Homo sapiens: one gene and its partner. The protein of the gene in region 2 interacts with the protein of the main gene of each other region in a pairwise test. Each region holds a gene or a part of one and is shown on either strand. Other genes may lie near its edges.

Region 1 (12,058 bases), on a different chromosome or scaffold from region 2:
TTTTTTTCTTTTTTTCAGATGGAGTCTCGCTCTGTCGCCCAGGCTGGAGTGCAGTGGTGCAATCTTGGCTCACTGCAAGCTCCGCCTCCTGGGTTCACACCATTCTCCTGCTTCAGCCTCCCGAGTAGCCTCCCGCCGCCACGCCCAGCTAATTTTTCTTTTTTAAATATTTTTAGTAGAGACGAGGTTTCACCGTGTTAGCCAGGATGGTCTCGATCTCCTGACCTCGTGATCCACCCACCTCGGCCTCCCAAAGTGCTGGGATTACAGGCGTGAGCCACCGCACCTGGCCAATCTCTGGTTTTCTCACGCCACTATTTACATTCTACACCCAGCCCATGTGCTGCCAGTCCAAGAAATTACTAAACTAGTAATCATAGCTGTACTTTATTAGTGAAATCACAAACAACCTAAATGTTTATCTGAAGAACTAAATATTTTTGTCAAGAAAAACATAGCAAATACACAAGATTATTTCAATAACAGAGATTTATCTACTTACTTTGCATCCTGGTCCTTATTCTTGCAGTTTGTGGGGCCCATTCCTGGGGAGTTTTTTGATATCCTGAGCCTGAAGCAAATACATATATCAAAAGATAATTTCCCATACTTTGAAAGTTTATACCATATTCCAGTGTTATAAAATTAATCTATCAGAAAGACAAAATAAAGTAGGGGAAGAAAACAATAAAAGCAATAGTTTTATAAGTAAAAGATAATTTCAAAGGATCGTATCAGTGAGGATGAACCACTTCCTACAGCAAAGCAGGTAGCAAATAAATATATTATCACATAATACAAATTACTTGTGGTAAAATAGCCCTGAACACATTTCCATATCACAGAGTAATTATTATAGGTAGTACCAATCCGTGGTGAATTAAAAAGGTAAAGAGGGGTAAAATGACTTAAAATCTTATTACAACTTTTGTTGGGAGAATAAGGCAAGGTTAGAATTGATTGACTGAGGCTGGGTGCGGTGGCTCACACCTGTAATTCCAGCACTTTGGGAGGCCGAGGCAGGTGGATCATGAGGTCAGGAGATCAAGACCATCCTGGCTAACACAGTGAAACACCGTCTCTACTAAAAATACAAAAAATTAGCCGGGCGTGGTGGCGGGCGCCTGTAGTCCCAGCTACTTGGGAGGCGGAGGCAGGAGAATCGCGTGAACCCAGGAGGTGGAGCTTGCAATGAGCCCAGATTGCACTCCAGCCTGGGCGACAGAGCAAGACATCGTCTCAAAAAAAAAAAAAAAAAAAAAGAGAAAAGAATTGATTGGCTGAAAAAAGAGCAGACAACCAACTACTTACTTAGCACTGAAGGTTGCTTATCATGAGCTGTGAAGTTTTGACCTGAAACAGAAAACAGGGATAAGGTCATAGAATACTTGAAAATAACAACAAAAAAGATGTTGCACAGACATTTTGCTTGTTTACTGTGGATACTAAAAACAAACAACAGACAAAAAACATTCTCTCATCAATTCCAAGCATATAAATATATAAAGTATATATATATAAAAAACATACATATACTATATATATACATATATATACATATATATATATATATATATATATAAAGTGTGTGTGTATTTCTTTCCCCCTCATTTCTAAACTTCAAAATGTTTAGGAATTGGGCAACAATAAGGAGTTAGTTTAGGATCAGTACCATCAAAATAAAAACTACATATAGTCATATATATCAAGTATAATTTTGTTTAATTCTTTTTTTTTTTTTTTTTTTGAGACAGGGTCTGACTCTGTCACCCAGGCTGGAATGCAGTGGCACAATCTCAGCTCACTGCAACCTCCGCTTCCCAGGTTCAAGATATTCTCCTGCCTCACCTTCCCAAGTACTTGGGATTACAGGTGTGCACCACCATGCCTGACCAAATTTTTTGTCTTTTTAGTAGAGACAGGGTTTCCCCATGTTGGCCAGGCTGGTCTCAAACTCCTGACCAGGGTTTCACCATGTTGGCCAGGCTGGTCTCAAATTCCTGACCTCAAATGCTCTGCCTGCCTCGCCCTCCCAAAGTGCTGGGATTACAGGCATGAGCCACCATGCCCAGCCAATTTTGCTTAATTCTTATGTGGTAGATGCTATTACTGTTCGTATTTTATAAATAAGGGAAAATCAGCTGGATGCGGTGGCTCATGCCTGTAATCCTAGCACTTTGGGAGGCCAAGGCAGGTGGATCATGAGGTCAGGAGATCGAGACCATCCTGGCTAACACGGTGAAACCCCGTCTCTACTAAATATATAAAAAATTAGCCAGGCGTGGTGGTGGGCGCCTGTAGTCCCAGCTACTCGGGAGGCTGAGGCAGAAGAAGGGCGTGAACCTGGGAGGCGGAGCTTGCAGTGAGCTGAGATCACACCACTGCACTCCTGCCTGGGCGACAGAGCGAGACTCTGTCTCAAAAAAAAAAAAGGGGGGGGGGGAACCAAAATTGGTAATTTTTCCAAAATTATATATCTAAAAGTAGTTGGGCTGAGATACAAATCCAGGCAGTCCATATCATATACCACATACCATACCATAAAGAAATGGTATGTACTATCTATGCAGATTTATGGACATTGCAAAGTAGCTATGAAGTAAAACATGCTACTTCAGGTTTTGAGGTGGTATTTAAGGATAACTGTAAAATGACACAATGGGATGACTAAAAAATGACATTACAATTATAACAAGGTAAATTTTCAAATCTGCCCTGAGAAAATGAGTTACTCTTTGATGATAAATACAAGTATCGATTTACATTTATTTATTTTCAACTTTTTCTGAATACAAACATGTGCTAGCTGTTTAAAAAAAGGGGCCATTCTAGAAATGCTTAATTTAAAAATTCATGAATATCTATCTGTTAAGTATCTACTATGTGCAAAACATTGAACATAGAAATATTATGGTAAATAAGACAGATATTCTCTCAGCTTTGTTTTCAGCCTATACTAAAAATATACTTTTAAAAAAGTGGATACATACGTTTTAATATTTTCATCAAATTCTAAGACATACTTTTTAAAAAATGCCCTTTGATCTACAGATATATCTTTTAATTAATGGTATGGCATAGTTTAACTGGATGGTTTTTCTTTCTCATTGATACATAAAATCAATAGTATCTTAAAGTCAATGAAATATATCTTGATCAACTTTTCATTAGGATACAATGAACTAACTCATTTTTCATTTCTAAATAGTATTTCTTTTTTTTTGAGATGGAGTCTTGCCCTGTCACCCAGGCTGGAGTGCAGTGGTGCAATCCCAGTTCACTGCCGCCGTTGCCTGTTGGGTTCAAGCGATTCTCCTGCCTCAGCCTCCCAAGTAGCTGGGATTACAGGCACCTATCACCATACGTGGTTAATTTTTGTATTTTTAGCAGAGACGGGGTTTCACCATGTTGGCCAGGCTGGTCTCAAACTCCTGGCCTCAAGTGATCCACCTGCCTTGGCCTCCCACAGTGCTGGGATTACAGGTGTGAGCCACCGTCCCCAGACTAAATAGTATCTCACTGCATGGGTATAATATCATTTATACGGGTAGATACATTTAAGAGTTTCCAAAGATCAAAGATTTGGAGTAAAATAGGGCAAATACATAAAATAATTCGAAGAGTAATTTTCCACAACTGATTTTTTCCCAGCAGCTAATTCATTTTATGTCTCATTTTATAGTCACAAACCCAGAACCTATTAAAAATTAAAATAAAAAATATAAAATTGAATTCTAGAAATACAATGATTTTAAAAAAGATTTCCAAAGGCTTTTTCTTTTTTTCTTTTTTCTTGAGACAGGGTCTCACTCTGTCGCCCAGGCTGGAGTGCAGTGACACAATCTCGGCTCACGGCAAGCTCCGCACTGCCCCCTCAGGTTCACGCCATTCTTCTGCCTCAGCCTCCCGAGTAGCTGGGACTACAGGCACGCGCCACCACGCCCAGCTAATTTTTATATTTTTAGTAGAGACGGGGTTTCACCATGTTGGCCAGGATGGTCTCGGTCTCTTGACCTAGTGATCCGCCTGCCTTGGTCTCCCAAAGTGCTGGGATTACAGGCATGAGCCACCACGCCTGGCCTTCCAAAAGTTTTTTCTTAAGAAAAGAAAGTAATGTGGAAGAAAAAAAAAGTTCTTGAAGATTTTTACATACAAAGATATTTTTGGTTGATTAATAACTAACTCAGATTTTGGGAGACTTGATTTAAAAATGTCAAAAGAAAAAAACAGTAGTAACAAAATAATAAAGGTGGCTGGGCGCAATGGTTCACACCTGCAATCCCAGCATTTTGGGAGGCTGATGTGGGAGGAATGCTTGTGCCCAAAAGTTTGAGACCAGCCTGAGCAAGATAGTGAGACTCTGTCTCTACAAAAAATTTAAAAATTAGCTGGGCATGGTAGCACGTGCCTGTAGTCTTAGCTACTCAGGAAACTGAGGCAGGAGGATCCCTTGAGCCCAGGAGTTCGAGGCTACAGTGAACCATGACGGCACCACTACACTTGCCTGGGTAACAGAGTGAAAACCTGTCTCAAAAAAAGAAAAAAGAAAATAATAAAGTTAAAAAAATGTCACCAATGATTCTTAAGCAAATCATTATTAGCATTTTGGTATATGACTTTCCAATCTTTTTTTGTTATACTTTCTCAATATTTGATCACAAAAATTTTCAGTTGTAAGACTGAAATGAATATTTATATACCCATAACCAAGCTTGCCATTAACTTTTTATTACATGTGCTTTATCACTTATTTATTCATCCTTCCAAACTTTTACAACAGAGTTGAAATTGTACTAATATAAAATTTTATGTCCTTATTAGAATAAGTGCATATAAATAGGCTCAAACTACTACATTAGTCTGTTAAAATAAAAGCAATCAACCCATTTATACTGCTAGCAAAGACATTCAACAAATCACAGGAAGTAGTAGTTTTTTGTTTGTTTTTTAAGTTCAAATTCAGGTTTGGGTATAGAGAATAATAACTCAATAAGCAAGGTCAAGTGGTAGAGAGATATCGGATAAGTTTTTTTTTAGCATTCATTATTCCTCTTGTTCAATATTTACGTTAAATTTCAAAAGAGGATCTTCAAAAATAGGAACATCATTTGACCAAGCTCACAGGAAGACACTGTAAACACAGCTTTACTTACTTTGTGATGACTGCCAAAATGATTCTATATATTGACTAGATGATCTGGTGGTTTTATCTAAAAAATAAAAAACAGTACACTATAAATAATATCCAACTTTTAGACTGTACATTTTACAAGACAACAGTGAGAAATTAATAAAAAGAGCAAAAATATTCGGGTAACTCCCAGGTGGTTAAAAACGTGGATGCATAATTTATTTAAAAAATTTCTAGGCTGGGTGCAGTGGCTCTTGCCTATAATCCCAGCACATTGGGAGGCTGAGGCAAGCGGATCACCTGAGGTCAGGAGATTGAGACCATCCTGGCCAACGTGGTGAAACCCCGTCTCCACTAAAAATACAAAAATTATCTGGGCGTGGTGGCGCGTGCCTGTAATCCAAGCTACTCGGGAGGCCTTAGGGCAGGAGAACTGCTTGAACCAGGGAGACAGAGGTGCAGCGAGCCGAGATCGCACCACTGTACTCCAGCCTGAACAAGAGAGTGAGACTCTGTCTCAAAAAAAAAAAAAAGGTTAAAAAAGTTTCTAAAGAGTCATGTCACATCTAAAATATTAGCTAATAACCACTTAAAAAATTGTTATGATACAGAACATGCCCCAAGGTAATGACATAATAAAACCTTTGAGTTGCGGAAAATTTTCAAAGTTTACAACAGTGGAGCATCTTGAAATCATTAATATCCATTTTTGCTTTAAATTTTTATTGCAAGTGGGCAATATTTTTGTATACTCTTTTTCTTTCTTTCTTCTTCTTCTTTTTTTTTAAGAGATGGAGTCTCACGTTACTGCCCAGGCTGGTCATGAACTGAAGGGATCCTCCTGCCTCAGCCTCCTCAGTATCTGGGACTATAGGTACCTATCACCATGCCTTGCTTTCAGTCTACTCTTCTTAAAAACATTTTTTCCCAAATAAAAGTAGAATTTATAACTAAATTAGTTTAAAAGTGATCAGGTTGCTGTTTTGGAAACAGACACATTGATACAAAAAGGTGAAGTGCCCATATTTTTTTTTTTTTTGAGATGGAGTCTCGCTCTGTTGCCCAGGCTGAAGTGCGATCGCGCAATCACAGGACCTGAGGTTTATGTACTTCCAAATAGTTATGCTGGTAGCAATGGCAGCAAACTATTGGCTATATAAATGGCTTAATTAACCTCTAATTTTTAGAGCTTCATGTAATATGTATGAACACTAATAACAGCACTTAGTGTTTACTATGTGCCAGGTAAGTGCTTTGCATATATGAATTAATTTAACCCCCACAACAATCCAGATGACAAGACTGAGGAACACAGAAGTTAAATAACTCTCTAAAGGCAAACAGCTAAAAAGTGAAGGAATGGAACCCAGAAATTCTAGCTAGACACTACCAGCGTGTTACAAATCTCCATTTCTGTATCAAGAATTCATAGGAAAAATGAGGAAGGGTGGGAAACACACAGAATACCAAATGCCCAACAACCAGCGTATAATGCCAGGCACGGTGGCCCACACCTATAATCTCAGCACTTTGGGAGGCTGAGGCAGGAGAATTGCTTAAGCCTGGGAGGTCGAGGCTGCAGTGAGCCATGATCGCATCACTGCACTCAAACCTGGGTGACAGAGAGAGATCCTGTCTCAAAAAAATAAAAACAAAAACCAAACCAGCTTATGTACTTATTTTTAAAGTGAAATGATGAGGTAAAGAATAGGAATTACAGGTCAGGCGTCGTGGCTCAGGCCTGTAATCTCAGCACTTTGGGAGGCAGAGGCAGGTGGATCACCTGAGGTCAGGAGTTTAAGACCAGCCTGGCCAACATGGTGAAATCTCATCTCTATTAAAAATACAAAAATTAGCCAGATGTGGTGGTGCGCACCTGTAATCCCACCTGCTTGGGGGGCTGAGGCAGGAGAATCACTTGAACCCAGGAGGCAGAGGCTGCAGTGAGCCGACATTGCGCCACTGCACTCCAGCATGGGTGACAGAGTGAGACTCTGCCTTAAAAAAAAAAAAAAAAAAAAAAAAGAATTGGAATTACAGAAATTTTAAGGAGGTGGTGAAGGGAAAGTGCAGGACTAAAGTATAAAATTACTCATTATTTACAGAGTTTACAAATTTGTTTAGCATTATCTTTTTTGGGGGGGAGGGTCTTGTTCAACATTATCTTAAGCCTCAAACTGGTATTTTTCTCTCTTTAGTCAACTCTTTCATTGAATAAACTTAAATTCACATAAACAATCAGAACTTGTTAATTAATAATTTGGTTTGAATTTGAAAATCCAGAGATAAAGCTAGTTATATAATTAAATGAAAACTTCCTAAAAGTAACACTCCAGATAGTGTTGTCAGTCCCAATGGCAATGTGATTAGTTTCTCTATAAAATTCAAAAAACAACAAGTAACTCTTCTTTTGAGCACAAAAATATCTTATTTTCCACAAATATCAAAAAAAGCTAAAAGTGATTTGTTTAGATATCATGACATAGTATTAATCGGATGAACACGAAATCAGTAATTTTAATAAATATTTAAAGAAAAATTCACGACTTTTTATAAAGTATTAATAAAAATTTGAAAGTTTTTTTTAAAAAGCAAATTCATGGAATACCAAAGATAGTTCTATGAGAAGAGTCATATGTATATAAAGCAATATTACCTCCAGATTCATCAGAATCCCTGGATCTGGCCTTAACAGTAGTGACACTGCTGTGAGAGCTGTCTTGATCATCTTCTTCAGTTTCTCCTAAAGAGAAGTAAACAATATACTAATATAGTCTATTTTAATGCTCAGAAGATCTGAATTTAAAAAAACCAAGCAAATAATTTAACATTAAAAGAAGCCTTTTAAGTTATCAGATATAGAACTACTGTTTGTTTATCATGCTTATTATTTTGAATCCCAAAGTTCCAAAGGAACTAAAATTTATCTCAATTTGTGTCCTCTGGGGCACATAATACTTTCCTAAACAAATATTCAGAGTAATATCTAAAAAACTATAAGGCTTTAATGTAGAGTCAAAAATGAACAGATGAGCGTTAAACAGTGGAAAAAGTTTATGGGGAGGAAAACTACATATAATTAGTGTGTAGTTAAATTCAGATGTGTATTTGTGTGTGTGTGTTGGTGGTAGAGGGGTAGTGTACACACACCTGCACACAAACATTCTATTATGCAGGTGACCACCCTCAGATTATGCTGAGCTTCAACAAAAACTAAATTTTATTCCTGTACTTTTCAAACATAAACTGGTTATGAGAATTTGGAAAACTGATTACTTTAATACCATAATAGAAAATATTATCTTTGCTTAAAATGAACCCAAATAGACAAAAGATGCTTAAAATGTAAGGCTGTCATCACTCATTCTATCTGTCCTATTATTTCTGCCCAGTTAACAGTTCAGATAAGCATGAATTTTTTTTCTTGAAGAAAAACACATTATTTTCTGTTCTAACTTCTTTTTGTTTTTTTTTTTTTTAAGAGATGGGCTCTCACTAGGTTGCCCAGGCTGGAGTGCAGTGGCCATTCACAGTTGCAATCCCACTACTGATCAGCACGGGAGTTTTGACCTGGTCCGTTTCTGAACTGAATGGATTCACCCCTCTTTAGGCAACATGGTGGTCCCCCGCTCCCGGGAGGTCACCATATTGAAGCCAAACTTAGTGCAGACACCTGATCGGCATAGTGCACTACAGACAGCCCAGAACTCCTGGACTTAAGTGATCTTCCTGCCTCAGCCTCCCGAGTAGCTGAGACTACAGGCATGTGCCACAGTCCCCGGCTCTGTTCCCACTTCTTAAATATCTATCAGAATGGCTTCTAATGTAAAGAAAAAGACTTAAAGTATATATTATATGATATTTACAAGTAAAATACCTTCTTCAGAGAAATTGACCTTCTGTTGGACACTGGTGGCTTCTAGAAGAAAAAAGCATACATCAAATATTAAACATATAACATCAAAAGTTAAAGCTTAGGAATAAACAAAAGCTTAGGAAAAAAGTTAAAGCTTAGGAATAAATAAAAGAGCATCTCGTTTAGGAAAATGAACATGAGGACACATTAAATAAATTCTTTTTCTGTTAAATCACTAAGAATTGGCCGGGTGCAGTGGCTCACGCCTATAATCCCGGCACTTTGGGAGGCCGAGGTGGGTGGATCACTTGAGGTCAGGAGTTTGAGACCAGCCTGGTCAACATGGTGAAACCCTGTCTCCACTAAAAATACAAAAATCAGCCAGGAGTGGTGGTGTGTGCCTGTAATCCCAGCTACTCGGGAGGCTGAGGCAGGAGAATAGTTTGAACCTGGGAAGCAGAGGTTGCAGTGAGCCGAGATCGCGCCACTGTATACCAGCCTGGGCGACAGAGCAAGACTCTGTCTCAAACAGAAAAAGGAAATGAAGTGTTTAATTTTCCTTCAGTCACAGGTCTATTTTTACTCTAAAATGTAACCTTTGTATGCAAAAAAAACATTAAATTCTACATTGACAAATATTCTAGTGTGTATAGGTTTGCTATATTCTCATTCTCTTATTTGCCAAATCCCCTATACTCCCTTTAAAAACCAACTACACTAACTGGACTGATAACCCAGTTCTTTCGAGCATTGGTGTATCCAAAGAGGAAGAAAGGTAAAGAAACTTCTAGTTCTGGCGGGTCCATGTATGTCACTGTTTTCCAGTGCAAAAGAGAATTTGAACAAAAATAAACAAGCAAAACACATCAAATAAACTTGGAACATAGTATTTTTACATGGGCTATTCTGAAACTTAAAAAAAAAAAAAATAGTGAGATGTACCCAAATGCAGGTATTTCACAATTGGGTTAAAATATCGCTGAAGGATCATATGTAGAGAAGTAGCATGATTTAGACTTCTTCAACAAAGCTGAGAAAATTTCAGCTTTTATCTCTACTGATTTTAACCTCAATTTGCTTATTAAAAGGGACAATAGTATTATAGAAAGCAACTGCTAACACATTATACGGTGAATTTGAAAATATTTATTTTAAATCCATTTAATTAGATTAGTATAATACTAGTCAAGCTTTGAGTTCCACTGAAAATACTTCCTCTTGACAGTGGCAAGTGCAAATCAGTATCTGAAATATATTTGCCAACATTTTTTTATTTAAAAAAAAAAACTAACCCAGAGAAAACTGCTGATAACACCATGTTACTCTTAAAGAGCTAGACTCTGGTGTATTAAGTACTATTTTGCTCTAGGTTTCTTAGGAACACTGTCCTTTCTTTTTCTCTTTTTTGAGGGAGAAAAAGGAAAAGTCAAACGAAAAAAATTTTTTTTAAGATTTTAATTTAAAACAAGAGATGGGGTTTTACATCATGACCAGGCTGGTCTCAAACTCCTGGCCTCAAGCAATCCTCCCATCTCCTAGCCTGTAATCCCAGCACTTTGGTCTCTTAAAGTACTGAGACTGTAATACAGGCATGAGCTCCACAGCTGGCCAAAAATTTTTAATTAATATTTCCATTCCTACAAAAAGGTATTGTTCTCTTTTTGAAGTTTTATTATCTAAGTGCATAATTATTATAGTACTTCATATTTTTGTATAGCAGTTTTACTTTATTCATTTATGTAACTATTCACATAGCATGCAAATACAAGATGCTTTCTTAAGAATCAATAATCATATTTTTGTTATTATCTTAAAATGCTAAGTCCTTAATATTTGCATGATGCTATTTGATTTTCAAAAAACCCTTCATGAATGTCATCTGATTCCCATCTCATCATAAGGGAAGATTTTCATAAGTAAGGTTCATAGATATCAAGTGACTTGTCTAAGGGTATAGGTCTAATTTAATAATAAAAAAAGCCAGAAGACCGCAGGTTCTTCTGACTTCCAGTCTATTACAATCCTACCACCTCATCAGTCTTGTTCATAACAGCACATAGTAAACACTCAATAATTTTTTTTTTTTTGAGACATGGTTTGGTTCTGTCGTCCAGGCTGGAGTGCAGTGGTGTGATCTTGGCTCACTGCAACCCCTCCCTCCCAGGCTCAAGCCATCCTTCCACCTCAGCCTCCTGAGTAGTTGGGACTACAGGCACATGTCACCACACCCTGCTAATATTTATACTTTTTGTAGAGACAAGGTTTTGTTTGCCATGTTGCCCAGGCTGGTCTCGAACTCTTGAGCTCAAGTAATCTGCCTGCCTCAGCCTCCCAAAGTGCTGGCATTACAGGTATGAGCCACTGCACTTGGCCAATTTTTTGAATAGATGAATAAAGAAACGGCTGACAGCTGAACTTTTCCTAATATGAGAGGTTCCAATAAACTTCTAAGTGTAATTCATGTAATACAGTAGGCTTTACTAAGGTCCCATTTATATTTCAGTGTTATGTTTTACATAGTTACTCTAAAAATTATATGGTAGACAAAACCTCTTTAACTAGGGCTGAATAGATTTTAGAATCTATAATAATGGAAAGGATATGTTGGAGATTTACATTCATTTGTTGAGCTATCAGAATAGTACAGTACAGTACACAGTACAGTAGTATGACTAATACAGTAATCCCTTTTTTCGATAGGTATGTTTTATCTGTATACATTTGAAGATATGTTTTATTTCTGTACACATTTGAAGTTCCAGGTCAATTTGTCTAGAGCCAATTCATTTAACAGTCATTTCTCCATATACCAAGTTGCCTAAAATTCAATCTTTTTTCTGCTTATCTATGTGTTATCTAATTAGCATGGAGAGATGGTTTAATAATTATTTTTTAGCCAGCTTACATAAGGGAGCTCCCCATTTGATTTTAATACTTCTAACATGTTATTATATTTGAAGTATCTAATAAATCATGGATTCTATCCATTTTTCAACACTTTTCAGACTTCTGGATTTAATCTAGTGACTAAAGATCCTTTTTTAGAATTCTATGTTCCTAACAATAAATAT
Region 2 (12,420 bases):
TGGGGCTTTAAAGAAAAGTGTCAAGCAGGGTTACCAAAAAAACCATAGTACAGCCGGGCGCGGTGGCTCACGCCTGTAATCCCAGCACTTTGGGAGGCTGAGGTGGGTGGATCAATCACCTGAGGTCAGGAGTTCGAGACCAGCCTGACCAACATGGTGACACACATACGTACACACACACACACACAGATTGCTTTAGTCACAAGGTGATTGCAGCAATTAGAAGTGCTCATTCCGGCATGGGCTGGTGAGGGGCACAGATGGCAGCCACTGGACTCTCTGGAAATGTCCCCTCATTTGGAGACAACCCCTGAAGTTCAGTTTTGAGGACCTCACCCCAGGTCAAGGAAGAGGCCCTGGCCCTGGATGTTTGCTCGCTCTTCACCTGTTGTTTTCTTTCCAGGTCGAGAATACAGCTCTTCTCGAAGGTAAGGAAGCCCATGACCCTCCACTTTCTTGGAAGTAACACTTGTCCTTTGATGGGAGGTCCTGGCTGTCATTCCTCCAGCCTCACCCTGTACCCACCTCCAGTTGGAGGGGCTGGTCTCATCCCTTGGGGAACATCCTTCCCTCCACAGACAAGTGCCCCGATCACTGAAGCATCCACGGCCCCAGGTGTGTTGATGTGTGTATGCCCCATCCTCACGGCCCCTCCCTTTCTCTTTCCAGGCGCTCAAGGTCCCGATCCCGAAGCCCCCATTACCGACATTAGGCAGAAGAGTGGGGGGTGGGGAGGACAAGGGGGTGGGTAAGGGGCTCAAGCTGTGATGCTGCTGGTTTTATCTCTAGTGAAATAAAGTCAAAAGTTATTTAATTCCCGTCACCTGTCTCAGTGTCATCTGTGTGGTTGGTGCAGGGCTCTCCCACCCCAGGGCCCATGGGCCAGCAGAGCCAGCTGGGAGGGCGCTTGGGTTTACAGGCCAGATGCCAGTGCTGCCTGTGTGGGACATCTTGCCCCCATCTGATGGCTAAGTGGCAGGCCCCTGTTCATCAGAACCTGCCATGGCTCAGTGAGGCCTGCTCAGGAGGCCAGGGCACAGTCCCAAGGGAGAGGGCCCAGACCTGCCCGCAGATGTGGACATAGGGTGTCGGCCCAGCATGTCCCACATGGGCCCCTTTGCCCAGGGCCTCTGGCGACAGGTCCGGGCCTCTCCCCGCCCTCGCCTCAGCCCCTGCCCTGGCCTCGCCCGCACTAGGAACTGGGAGCGCAGCTTTCTGTGCCAGTCCTGCTGCGCCCCAGGCACTGGGGGCTGGCCGTTCCCTCACCCCCTCACTCCAAACCGGTCTGTCCAGCCGTCCACCCCACGGAGGGGAAGCCTCCTGCCCCACCTCATGCACCCCAAGAAAGCCAGAGTCCAGACGGGTGTAAATAAAAGGGAAAATTTACTTGGAGAAGGCGGGCAAAAACGAGGAGGTCAATGGGTGTTGGCAGCGGTACCAGGGACAGTGAGGGGGGCTTTCCTGGGCTCAGGCCTCGCCGGCCGCCTCAGGGTGCTTCTGCCGCAGGTGTTTGTCCAGGGTGGCTCGCAGGCCGAAGGGCACATGGCAGTGGGGGCACTCGAAGCGGGTGCTGCCAGGCGTCATGCCGTGCATGCGGCGGTGGCGGTTGAGCTTACTGCTCTGGGCGCAGGCGTAGTTGCAGAACTCACAGGTGTAGGGGCGCTCCCCGGTGTGTGAGCGCCGGTGCACCGTCAGGTTGCTGCTGTTGGTAAAATGCTTCCCGCAGAACTCACAGCTGCCCCCGGGCCCGCGGCTCTTGCCCCCTGACTTGGGCATCTTTTTGGGTGATGCCTTCTGGCTGTTTGCAGGGTCAGTTCTTTGTTCCGTGGTGATGGCTCCCCAAGTGTCTCCACCAGGGCCGGCTTGAGCCCCACTGCCAGGAGCCCCGGGTTCCTGGACACCTGCTGTGGCGGCGGCTCCAGCCCCCTCACCACCGCTGCATGGAAGGGTGCTGGTGGGGGCAGCAGCATGGACAGCCGGCTCCGGAGGGGCTGCAGAGGCCTGCTCCTGGCTGGTGTCGGCCATGAGGGGGCTCTGGGGCGGCACCTGCCGGTGGGTCTTCTTGTGGCGGTTGAGCTTGCTGCTCTGGGCGCAGGCGTAGGGACACTGGTCGCAAGCATAGGGCCGCTCGCCTGTGTGTGAGCGCATGTGCACTTTGAGGTTGCTGAAGGAGCTGAGGGTCTTCTTGCACACAGGACAGGTGGGGCTCCGCCGGGTGAGGCCGCTGCCACTTGCACGGGGGCTCTTGGCCTCAGCTGCTGGCCCCACCACTGCCGACACGGCTGCAGCCACCTCGGCCAGGCCCAGGAGCGGGGCCTCCGGGGCCTCTGATTCTGTCTGGTAGATGGACAGTCCGTGGTCCCACTGGGCGTGACGCAGCAGCTTCCAGGCCACTGTGAACTGTTTGCCACAGCGCAGGCAGCTCAAGGCCTTCAGCTCCTCTCGTTCTGGTAAGAAAAAGAGGCAGAGTGTTAGTGCGGACAGCTGCCAGCTGGACACCTTCTGTGGGATAGGCACTCCTGCAGGGGCAAAGGACTTGGCAGTAACAAGACACACACACCCTGGAAGGACCAGGAAGCTGACGCTCAGAGGAGGGGTGGACACGAAAAATCTGTGGAGTGGGTGCTAAGTACCTGAAAACATTTTTTTTTAGACAGTCTCACTGTCGCCCAGGCTGGGGTGCAGTGGCACGATCTCAGCTCACTGCAACCTCCACCTCCTGGATTCAAGCTATTCTCATGCCTCAGCCTCTAGAGTAGCTGGGATTACAGGCGCCCGCCACCATGCCTGGCTAATTAGTAGAGATGGGGGTTTCACCGTGTTGGCCAGGCTGGTCTCGAACTCTTGGCCTCAAGTGATCCACCCACCTCGGCCTCCCAAAGTGCTGGGATTATAGGCATGAGCCACTGTGCTGGGCCATGTGTTTGAAAATCTTTTAAAAAGTTATGTTAACTCAGTAAGCGCTTCCTACATGCTAGGTGCTGAGCCATGGCTCATAGCCCGGCTTTCCCTCAGGACAGGAAAATAAGATCTCCATTTTCCAGACAGGAGAACTGAGGCACAGAGAGGCATTTCCCCAGGGTTGCACAGCTTGGAAGGGGTGAAGCTGGGATTTCAATCCAGACTACTGGGGGAGGGGGAGAGGGCAGAACAGAGGCTTGCTTGCTTTTTTTTTTTTGCTTTAAATTTTTAATTTAGTATTTTTTAAAGAGATGGGGTCCTGCTATGTTGCCCAGGCTATTTTTTTTTTTTTTTGAGACGGAGCCTTGCTCTGTCGCCCAGGCTGCAGTGCAGTGGCGCGATCTCGGCTCACTGCAAGCTCTGCCTCCGGGGTTCACGCCATTCTCCTGCCTCAGCCACCACGCCACAGGGTTTCACCGTGTTAGCCAGGATGGTCGCGATCTCCTGACCTCATGATCTGCCCGCCTCAGCCTCCCAAAGTGCTGGGATTACAGGTTTGAGCCACCGCACCCGGCCGCCCAGGCTATTCTTTAACTTAATGGCCTCAAGTAATCCTTCCGCCTCAGCCCCTCAAAGTGCTGGGATTATAGGCGTGAGCCACCATACCTGGCTGGGAGCAGAGGCTTTTGAATAAGATTTTTGGTTTAGGCCGGGCACGGTGGCTCACACCTGTCATCCCAGCACTTTGGGAGGCTGAGGCGGGTTGATCTCTTGAGGTCAGGGATTTGAGACCAGCCTGGCCAACATGATGAAACCCTGTCTCTAGTAAAAATAAAAAATAGCCGGGTGTGGTGGTGCGCGCCTGTAATCCCGGCCACTTGGGAGGTTAAGGCAGGAGAATCGCTTGAACCCAGGAGGCGGAGGTTGCAGTGAGCCGAGATCCCACCACTGCACTCCAGCCTGGGTGACAAAAGCGAGACTCTGTTTCAAAAAAAAAAATTTTTTTTGGTTTAATAAAAATAATTTTTAAAGTAATTGAGATATCTGGGCATGGTGGCTCATGCCTGTAATCCCAGCACTTCAGGAGGCCAAGGCAGGTGGACCACCTGAGGTCAGGAGTTTGAGACACCAGCCTGGTCAACATGGTGAAACCCTGTCTCTACCAAAAATACAAAAATTAGCTGGCCATGGTGGTGCACGCCTGTAGTCCCAGCTACTTGGAGGGCTGAGGCAGGAGAATCACTTGAACCTGGGAGGCGGAGGTTGCAGTGAGCTGAGATTGCACCACAGCACTCCAGCCTGGGTGACAGAGTAAGACTCCACCTCAAAATAATGGGGTAGCTACAGAGAAAGCTTAGCGGCCACCTAGTAAAGAGGTGGTAGTGACCTGGGTCCCCCACCCTCTGCATGGATCTCAAATTGAGCCCCCAAACCTGAATTTGGATTTCTATCTGGACCTTCGGGGTACTCTCAGTGGACACTTCCTAGGTGAACTAGCCTTTCCATTTTTCAAATTCTAGAGTCTTGGATGGGACAACCTTTGTGATACAACCAGTCCTGGGTCAAGAGCACAGGCCTGCATTCAAATTCAGACTTCTCTGCTCCCTAATTGTGTGACCTTGGGCAAGACATAGTCCTCTGTGTGCCTCAGTTGCTAGAATTCAGGGACCCTAGAGATCCCCTCCCTTTCAAGGGTGGTTGTGACCTCGCTTGGGGAATGGTTGAGAGCTTTGGTCCACATAAGCGCTCAAACAGCAGAGCCTGTGAAACCAAGGTGCCCATGATTCTCCAAGCCCTGTAGTGTTTTGTTCCAGCGATTCCATCACAGCCCCTCGCTCGCTCCTCCAGGCCACTCTCCATGCTCCAGCTCTAAAGCTGATTCAATCAGTCACAAGCCCCTCCTCTTTCCCACCACCAGACCCTCCCTGGCCCAACCCTAAATAATTCCACTTCTCAAAAGTCTCAGAAGGGCAAGGGCCAGGGGGCTGGAAACTAGGTTTGGATTAAGCCCTGCAGCCAACACTGACCAAAAGCTCACCGAGGGTCAAGCCCCATGTGAAGGCTTTTAATTCCCTCCCAAGAGAAGGAACCCGGGTGTCCAGCACCCGGGAGCTCGCTCAAACCAGGGGATTCCCAGCACGCGGGGCTGGGAGATTCCATCACCGAGGGAAGCCAGAAGCCCCTTCCTTGGCTCTGAACACTCAGCTGTACTAGCACCTCAATCAGAATTGACAGAGAGAGACAGGAGGGGGTGGCAACCTCCCCATTCCAGCTGGCCTCCACTCCCCCTCCCCCCGGCCGCTGCCCTCCCTAGAGGTCCCCTCCTACTGCCACCCTGGTCCAGCCACCTGGCCAGTTATTTCTGGCCAAGGGGAAGGAGAAGTGAAACCAGGTTGGGGTGTGTGTTGGGGGGGGCAAAATCCCGGGCTAGTCTTCTGGGGCTGGCCACACCCTGTAGGCGGCCCTCCTTCCCTGCCCAGTCCCCCCCCGCCCCCCCTCCACCGCCACCACTGGTCCCTGCCCTAGGACGGGCAGGCCCTGGCCACGCCTAGGCTGCACCCGATGGGGAGCGAGAAAGGGGAAGTAGTGCTCAGTGCCCTGCCGTCCAGCCCAGCCCCTTTCCAGCAGGAAGCCCAGCCCTCGAACTTGAGAGGGGGACTGCACCCGGCTTTACTCACCTGAGCCCTGGCCGCGGCTGGGGCCTCTGAAGAGCTGACAGCCCAGCTTCTTGTGGTCCATGAAGGCAGTGATGGCCTCCAACGGGAAGGTCTGCAGGCAGCGGCCGCAGGTCAACAGATCTGGGTGTTTGTCGGTCCAGGGCTGGCGGTCTGCAGGGAGGAAGCGGGTGGTGAGCGTGGGGTGGGGCCAGGATGGGGGCTGAGGGTGCTGAAGGAGAGGGGAAACCGAAGGTCAGAAGGGGGCCTGAGGGGCAGGACGGGGCGAAGGAGATAAGGCAGGGCGAGGGGCCCATGCCCAAAGGGAAGGGTCCCACCCGAGGGTCAAAGGTAAGGGAGGCTGGGCCCAGGGCCCGGGGTGCTCACCGGGATAGTTCGGGGTCAACGGCGTCCACAGGGTCCACGGGTTCCGCGGGCCGAGGGCGAGGAGGGCGGCCCCGGCGGGCATGGGGCCAGGGGAGTGGTGGGGTTCGCCGCCGAACCGCCCCGCCGAGGACACCTCCTTCGGGGAGAAGGGCCCCAGCCTTGGGGCCTGTTGGGGCTGCGCGTCTGGCTCGGGCTTGAGTTCGATGACGAGGTCCTGCATTTCCATCTCGTCGTCTGGGTTGGCGGCGGGCGCGGGCTCTACTCGGCGGGGCGCGCTGCCGGCCTTGCGGCGGGACATGAGTCGCGGGCCGGGCGAGCGAGCGGGCGGGCAGGCAGGCAGGCGGGCGGGCGGAGGACGCACGAGCGGAGGACGCGCGGACCGTGCGCGCTCAGGTGAGTGACTGCGGCGACCCGCCGCGAACTCTTACACGTGCTGGCCGGGCCCGTGGCTCCGCCTACCAGGGCGGGGCTCATGGGAGGGGACCGAGCCGCCCTGCTGGGGCCCTGACGGCGGCCTAACTCAATCTAGGCAGTGTCCCGTGCGTTTGGCTTAGTGACCAAATTTAATCACACCGAGTTCCCACAAGGCATTGAAACAGCTATCCCTGATCCCGTTTTAGGGCGGGTGAAACTGAGACACGGCATGCCCACACGCACCCCCAAGCGAGAAAAATAGTCGGTCACGTTTCTTATTAGGTGCCTGATAGTAATCTGGGCTATTTCATTAAATGCATTACAATAAAAATTCATTTTGCAAGCATTCACTGAGTGCCTCCTGTGCGCCAGGCTCTGTTTGAAGCCCTGAGAATACAGGAGGGAATAAACAGAAGATAATCTTTGTTTGCACGGAGTTCAGACGGTGGGGGAAGACACTATAAACATAATTACGTAAAATATAGATGGCCCTTCATGATGACCAGTGCCATGGAGCAAAAGAAAGCTGGAAAGGCGGAGAGGGTTACTGGGGTTGAGGGATTCAATTTTCTCCCCTATGATGGGAAAGGGCATGGTGGAGCTGAGGCTGGAGGGAAGGAAGCCCAGCCAGTGGGCCTGGGCATTGAGGAATTACAAGGAAAGGGAGAGGCAATACGGGTTGGGGATTGAGTTCAGTGAAAATATGGGGGCAGATCCAAGCAATCTTTTGATCGCTTTAAGGTCTTTTGGTTTTCCTGAGACCGGAGCCTTAGGAGGGTTTTGAGCAGAGGAGGACTGTAATCATACACATCGACTCTGTTCCTAGACCAGAAGTCGCCATTAAAACCAAATAGCCAAGCAGCTCACCTGCCTCCACTCCGCCTCCTTGAACTTCCCTCCCCTAAGCAGTTCTGTCTGCTCACTGTTTGAAGTGGCATCGACACCCTGCCCCACCCTCAATCCCTGATGAGTATTCTTTTCTTCCTGGCACCGACTGCACGACAGTATAGAACGGCTTGTGGACTGTCCTCTCCCCCACCCAATGCAAGCCCCCTGAGGTCAGGGCAAGAACCTGTCCTCCCCCAGCTGTCCTCAGCCCAGATGCTGATTTCAGATGCTGATCTCTTGGAGTTCTGCACATTGTTATTCAGGTCTGGGTTCCATTGTCCTCCTGAGAGCAGAGGGCCCTGACCAACAGTATCTAAAGTAGCCCCACCCTGCTGAAGGCCTTGCAAATTACACTCCATGACCTCCATCTGTCCCCAGTTCCCTCTTGGATCTCACTTTCTCCATCTGTCAAAGGAGGTAGGGCAGGTTGGAACTAGAGGGTTATCTGAGGTGGTTTCTTCTTCACTGCCGCCTCCTCTGATCACCCTTTTTTTTTTTGTAATTTTTAATTTTTCAAAAAAAATTATTTTTAAATAGAGACAGGGACTCGCTTTGTTGCCCTGGTTGGTCTGAAACTCTTGGCTTGAAGCGCTCCTCCTGCTTCAGCATCCCAAAGTGCTGAGATTACAGGTGTGAGACACTGCACTCAGCCTCAGACCACCCAATTTTAAGTTCCATGGCAACCCAGCCACCCACTATCCCATTGCCCTTATTTTACTCTTTTTTTTTTTTTTTTTTTTTGAGATGGAGTTTCACTCTTGTTGCCCAGGCTGGAGTGCAGTGGCACGACCTCAGCTCACTGCAACCTCCGCCTCCCGGGTTCAAGTGATTCTCCTGCCTGAGCCTCCGGAGTAGCTGGGATTACAGATGCCCGGCTAATTTTTCTATTTTTAGTAGAGACAGGGTTTCACCATGTTGGCCAGGCTGGTCTCGAACTCCTGACCTCAGGTGATCCACCCGCCTCAGCCTCCCAAAGTGCTGGAATTACAGGCGTGAGCCACCGTGCCCGGCCTATTTTATTCTTTATACATCACTTTGATCAAACCCTGAAGGATCTTGTTTACATATTTGCTCATTTTACCCTATTCTGTCCCTTCTACCCCCACTAGAACGTAGGTTCTAGGAGGCAGGATGGGAGTCTGTCTTGTTCATAAATACAACCCCTACTCGTTCATAGTTAAGTCAACAAATATTTATTGCGCACCTACTATGTGTCTGATGATATTCTTTCAACAGATATTTGCAGAGCACCAAATTGTGTACCTGGCACTAGGCCTTGGTGATCTAGTGGAAAGCAAAGGCCCACAGGATCCCTGCGTAAAGAGGACCCCGCAAGGAGAAAGTGAATTCTGACTGGGCCTGGAATAGGGAGGTTCATATTCCCCATTCAAGGCCTCAGTTTCCCCCTTTGTAAAATGGGACTGCAGGGAGAGCTGGAGGACAAAATGACCGCCTCTGATCCAGCCCAGCTACTTTCTTAGTATGCGGCATCTGAAACCATGATCTCCAGGTTTCCTGTAGAGGAGCGGGGGTTCCCACTGGAAGCAAGGGGTTAGGAGTGGGTATGTGTAGGGGGATGGGGATGCAAAGACCGAGCTCTGCCCTTAACCCAGCAGGGAGGAAGTCTTCCCCTCTCTGAACCTCAGTTTCTTCCTGCCTAAAATGGGCATCCCAGACGCCCCCAACTCGCAGGCAGGAAGATCGGTCCCAAGTGCCCCGCAAAGCCGCGGGCCAGGTGGCGACCCGGGCTGTGCTGGCTTCCAAGCCTGCGAGCCAGCCCGCGACCACGTGGGGCAGTGGCGGCGGCGCGGGCGGAACCCAGGCTCCGCGGCTTGCGGCCTGCCCGGGCCTCTGCAGCGGGGGCGCCGGCGGAAGTGGGGACACCAGTAGCCGCGGACCTCGGTGAGTACAAGGTGGTGGGGGGTCGCCAGCAGGTTCCCTCTCCCCGGCCCCAGCTCTGGACGCTCACCCCAGTGCAACGCCCTGAGTGACGGAAAGAGGTAGGACCGCGCCTGCAGCGCCGGCTGGAGGGACGTTCTGGTCCCCAGACGCTCCTATCAGGGACTGTTTGATCCCGATCGCCGGCAGCGGGAATGCCCCACGCGGGTGGGGTGAGGAGAAGGGAGAAGGAGAAAAACTTCCCCTCCGGAAAATAATAAATGGCCACGATAACAGAAGCATCGGTGGCAGTCATCCCGCTTTACCTGGAGCGGAATCGCTCGCTCAGTCTGAGCCTGGAGGTGGGAAGAAGGTCCAGTCCGAACGCCCAGGGCGGTGTGGGGAGTGGACGCCTGGGGGCCGGGAGGACCTACTTAGTATAAGAAAAGGAGAGCAATGGGTGGTCAGGGCGGAATTGAAAGGAAACTGACCGGCCCCAGGGGAGAAGGGGAGGGGAGAGATTCTGTGCTTGGGGTTCTGACCCTCTCGGGTGGCCCCATTTAGCTAATTTGCATCAAGATTCAGCAGCCGATGATGTCTGTATGTGTGTGTGTGTCTGTGGACACGTCAACACCTTGGTTAATTAATTAGGTCTGGCGGCTTCTCTGTTGACAACTCAGCTGGTTCCACACCCTGGCAATTGTGAAGAGTTGGCCAAATGTTTGTCCACTGAGCTGATCTCCTCTCTGGAGCACCGGGGCCACCAGGAGGGAGGTCTGTGAAACCCCTGCCCCTGCCATTGACCTAAGTGTTGGGCTCTTGAATCTAACAGACTAGTTTTTCAAGTCGTGGGGGATGGGCTTGGGCATTTTTCCCTGAAACCTTCGGAAATCCTTGCCTTGGAGACTGAAAGGATAAAGGCCTCTGGGGCCAGGTCACCAGGGACAATGGATAACGCCTGCCTCTACCCTCCTGGGCACACCCTGTGTGATCTTTCTTAAACCAGTTTCTTATCAGGTCACACCTTGGCTCCACAGTCTGCCTTTCTACATGGGGCACGGGTGAGGACCAGAGTTTGCTCCCTCTTCCTCCACCCTCCAGCTTGCACCAAGGAAATGATTTTTTTTTTTTTTTTTTTGAAACAGAGTCTCACTCTGTGGCCCAGGCTGGGGTGCAGAGGCGTGATCTCCGCTCACTGCAACCTCCGTCTCCCTGGTTCAAGGGATTCTCCTGCCTCAGCCTCCTGCGTAGCTGGGATTACAGATGCGTGCCACCACATCCAGCTAATTTTTTTTGTATTTTTAGTAGAGATAGGGTTTCACCATGTTAGCCAGGCTGGTCTTAAACTCCTGACATCAGGTGATCTGCCTCCCTCAGTCTCCCAAAGTGCTGGGATTACAGGTGTGAACCACTGCACCCAGCCCGAGGAAAGATTTGACCTGCCAGCTTCACTGGCCACTTTACAAAAATGGGGATTGCATCAATATGACCAAATCTCCCTTGTTTTTTGTTTTTTTTTTTTTTTTTCCTGATGGAGAAAACAAGGCCCTATACTGGCCCTCCCTTAATTTCATTTTATCCAGGGATTTAACAGAATTCTTTGGCCACTCTAATCCTATCTAAGTCATTTAGTAAGTACTCACCCTAGAGACTAGGGGGTTTCTCTTGAAACTCAAGTGTTAATCTAGGCTCAGGAAAGACCCTGGGGGCTGGTGAGGCCTGACTAAATTGGAGTGACAGTGGTCAGAGAAAATAAAAAATGCAAGTAGGGCGTGTTGGCGTGGGCCTGTAATCCCAGCTTCTCGGAAGGCTGAGGTGGGAGGATATCTTGAGTCCAGGAGTTCAAGATTAGCGTGGGCAATACAGCGAGACCTCACCTCAAAGTAAATAAATAAGTAAATGTGCTTTTTAAAAAATTAGAAAATGCAAGGCCGGGCACGGTGGCTCATGCCTGTAATCCCAGCACTTTGGGAGGCTGAAGCAGGCAGATCAGGAGTTTGAGACCAGCCTGGCCAACGTGGCCAAACCGCGTCTCTACTAAAAATACAAAATTAGCCATGTGCAGTGGTGCGCGCCTGTAGTCCTAGTTACTTGGGAGGCTGAGGCAGGAGAATTGCTTGAACCCGGGAGGCGGAGGTTGCAGTGAGTTGAGATCATGCCACTGTACTCCAGCCTGGGCGACAAGAGTGAGACTCCGTCTTAAAAAAAAAAAAAAAATTAGAAAATGCAACTATCCCTTAATTCCATTCACGTGGTCTTCCCTGTCAGGAAAAAAAAAAAAAACCTTGGAGTCTCCCTTGGCTGCTCTTTCCCTCAAATTATATATCCCTTATCCTGTCCATCACCGAGGGCTCTTGACCTTTCTTTTTTTGTTTGTTTTTGTTGTTTTGAGATGGAGTCTCACTCTGTCATCCATGCTGGAATGCAATGGCACGATCTCCGCTCACTTCAACCTCCGCTTCCCGGGTTCAAGCGATTCTTCTGCCTCAGCCTCCCGAGTAGCTGGGATTACAGGCACGCACCACCACACCCAGCTAACTTTTGTATTTTTAGTAGAGAGAGGTTTCACCATGTTGACCAGGCTGGTCTCATCCTGACCTCAGGCGATCTACCCACCTCAGCCTTCAAAAGTGCTGGGATTACAGGCGTGACCTACTGCGCCCAGCCTCGACCTTTCAAACATAGCCTAATCTGACCACTTCTCCCCATTCCCATTGTCCCCAGCCCATACTAGACGCCATCTTCTTCCACCTGGACCACTACAGTGACCTCCTCATTGCGTTCCTAGTGTCTCCCTTCAATCTCGTTTATTGTCCATGCAGCAGGCAGAGGATCCTGAGGACCTTAAGCCAGATTCTGCCCATCCTTCACTCAGAACTGTCCAGTGGCTTCAGTCTCAGAGTAGAGACCCAAATTGTCATCACAGCCCACAAGGCACTCTCTCTGTCCCTGCCCCCACCTCCTCCACACTGGCCTTGCTACGCCCCAAAGCCACCCTTTCCATGATCTTTGCATTTTGCTCTTCCTTCTGACTGGAATCTCCACATGGCTCCATTCCTAATTTCATTCAGGTCTATGCTCAAACGTAATCTTATCATAGGGATCTTTCCTGGGCTCCCTTGAAACTACCCTCTATCCCCCAGGCTGGGTCAGGTGTCTCCTCTGGACTCCTTCATTCCAGCCCTACTCACTTTGGGTCATCACTGCCTAAGGACAGGTCTGTGTCCCCTATTGGACTGTGAGCCCACAAAGGCGGAACTGGGCTCTCAGTCCTAGACGTGTTTCCAAGACCGCCCAA

What was found.
Region 1: the proteins of ZNF296 (region 2) and TOR1AIP1 interact in binary tests that used the Homo sapiens proteins (3 or more experiments, as listed by UniProt).

The regions. Positions count from the first base shown.
Region 1 is NC_000001.11:179,897,118-179,909,175, reverse strand, and holds part of TOR1AIP1 (torsin-1A-interacting protein 1), read right to left. Parts: intron 9,051-12,058; coding exon 9,009-9,050; intron 8,915-9,008; exon of another isoform or gene 8,612-8,914; intron 7,875-8,611; coding exon 7,788-7,874; intron 5,211-7,787; coding exon 5,154-5,210; intron 1,354-5,153; coding exon 1,312-1,353; intron 572-1,311; coding exon 503-571; intron 1-502. UniProt on the Homo sapiens protein: Required for nuclear membrane integrity. Induces TOR1A and TOR1B ATPase activity and is required for their location on the nuclear membrane. Binds to A- and B-type lamins. Possible role in membrane attachment and assembly of the nuclear lamina.
Region 2 is NC_000019.10:45,070,134-45,082,553, forward strand, and holds ZNF296 (zinc finger protein 296), read right to left. Parts: upstream 6,346-12,420; 5' UTR 6,241-6,345; coding exon 5,943-6,240; intron 5,730-5,942; coding exon 5,580-5,729; exon of another isoform or gene 5,494-5,579; intron 2,448-5,493; coding exon 1,468-2,447; 3' UTR 1,367-1,467; downstream 1-1,366. Other genes in the region: CLASRP (CLK4-associating serine/arginine rich protein), read left to right, coding at 404-428, 670-712. UniProt on the Homo sapiens protein: May be a transcriptional corepressor with KLF4.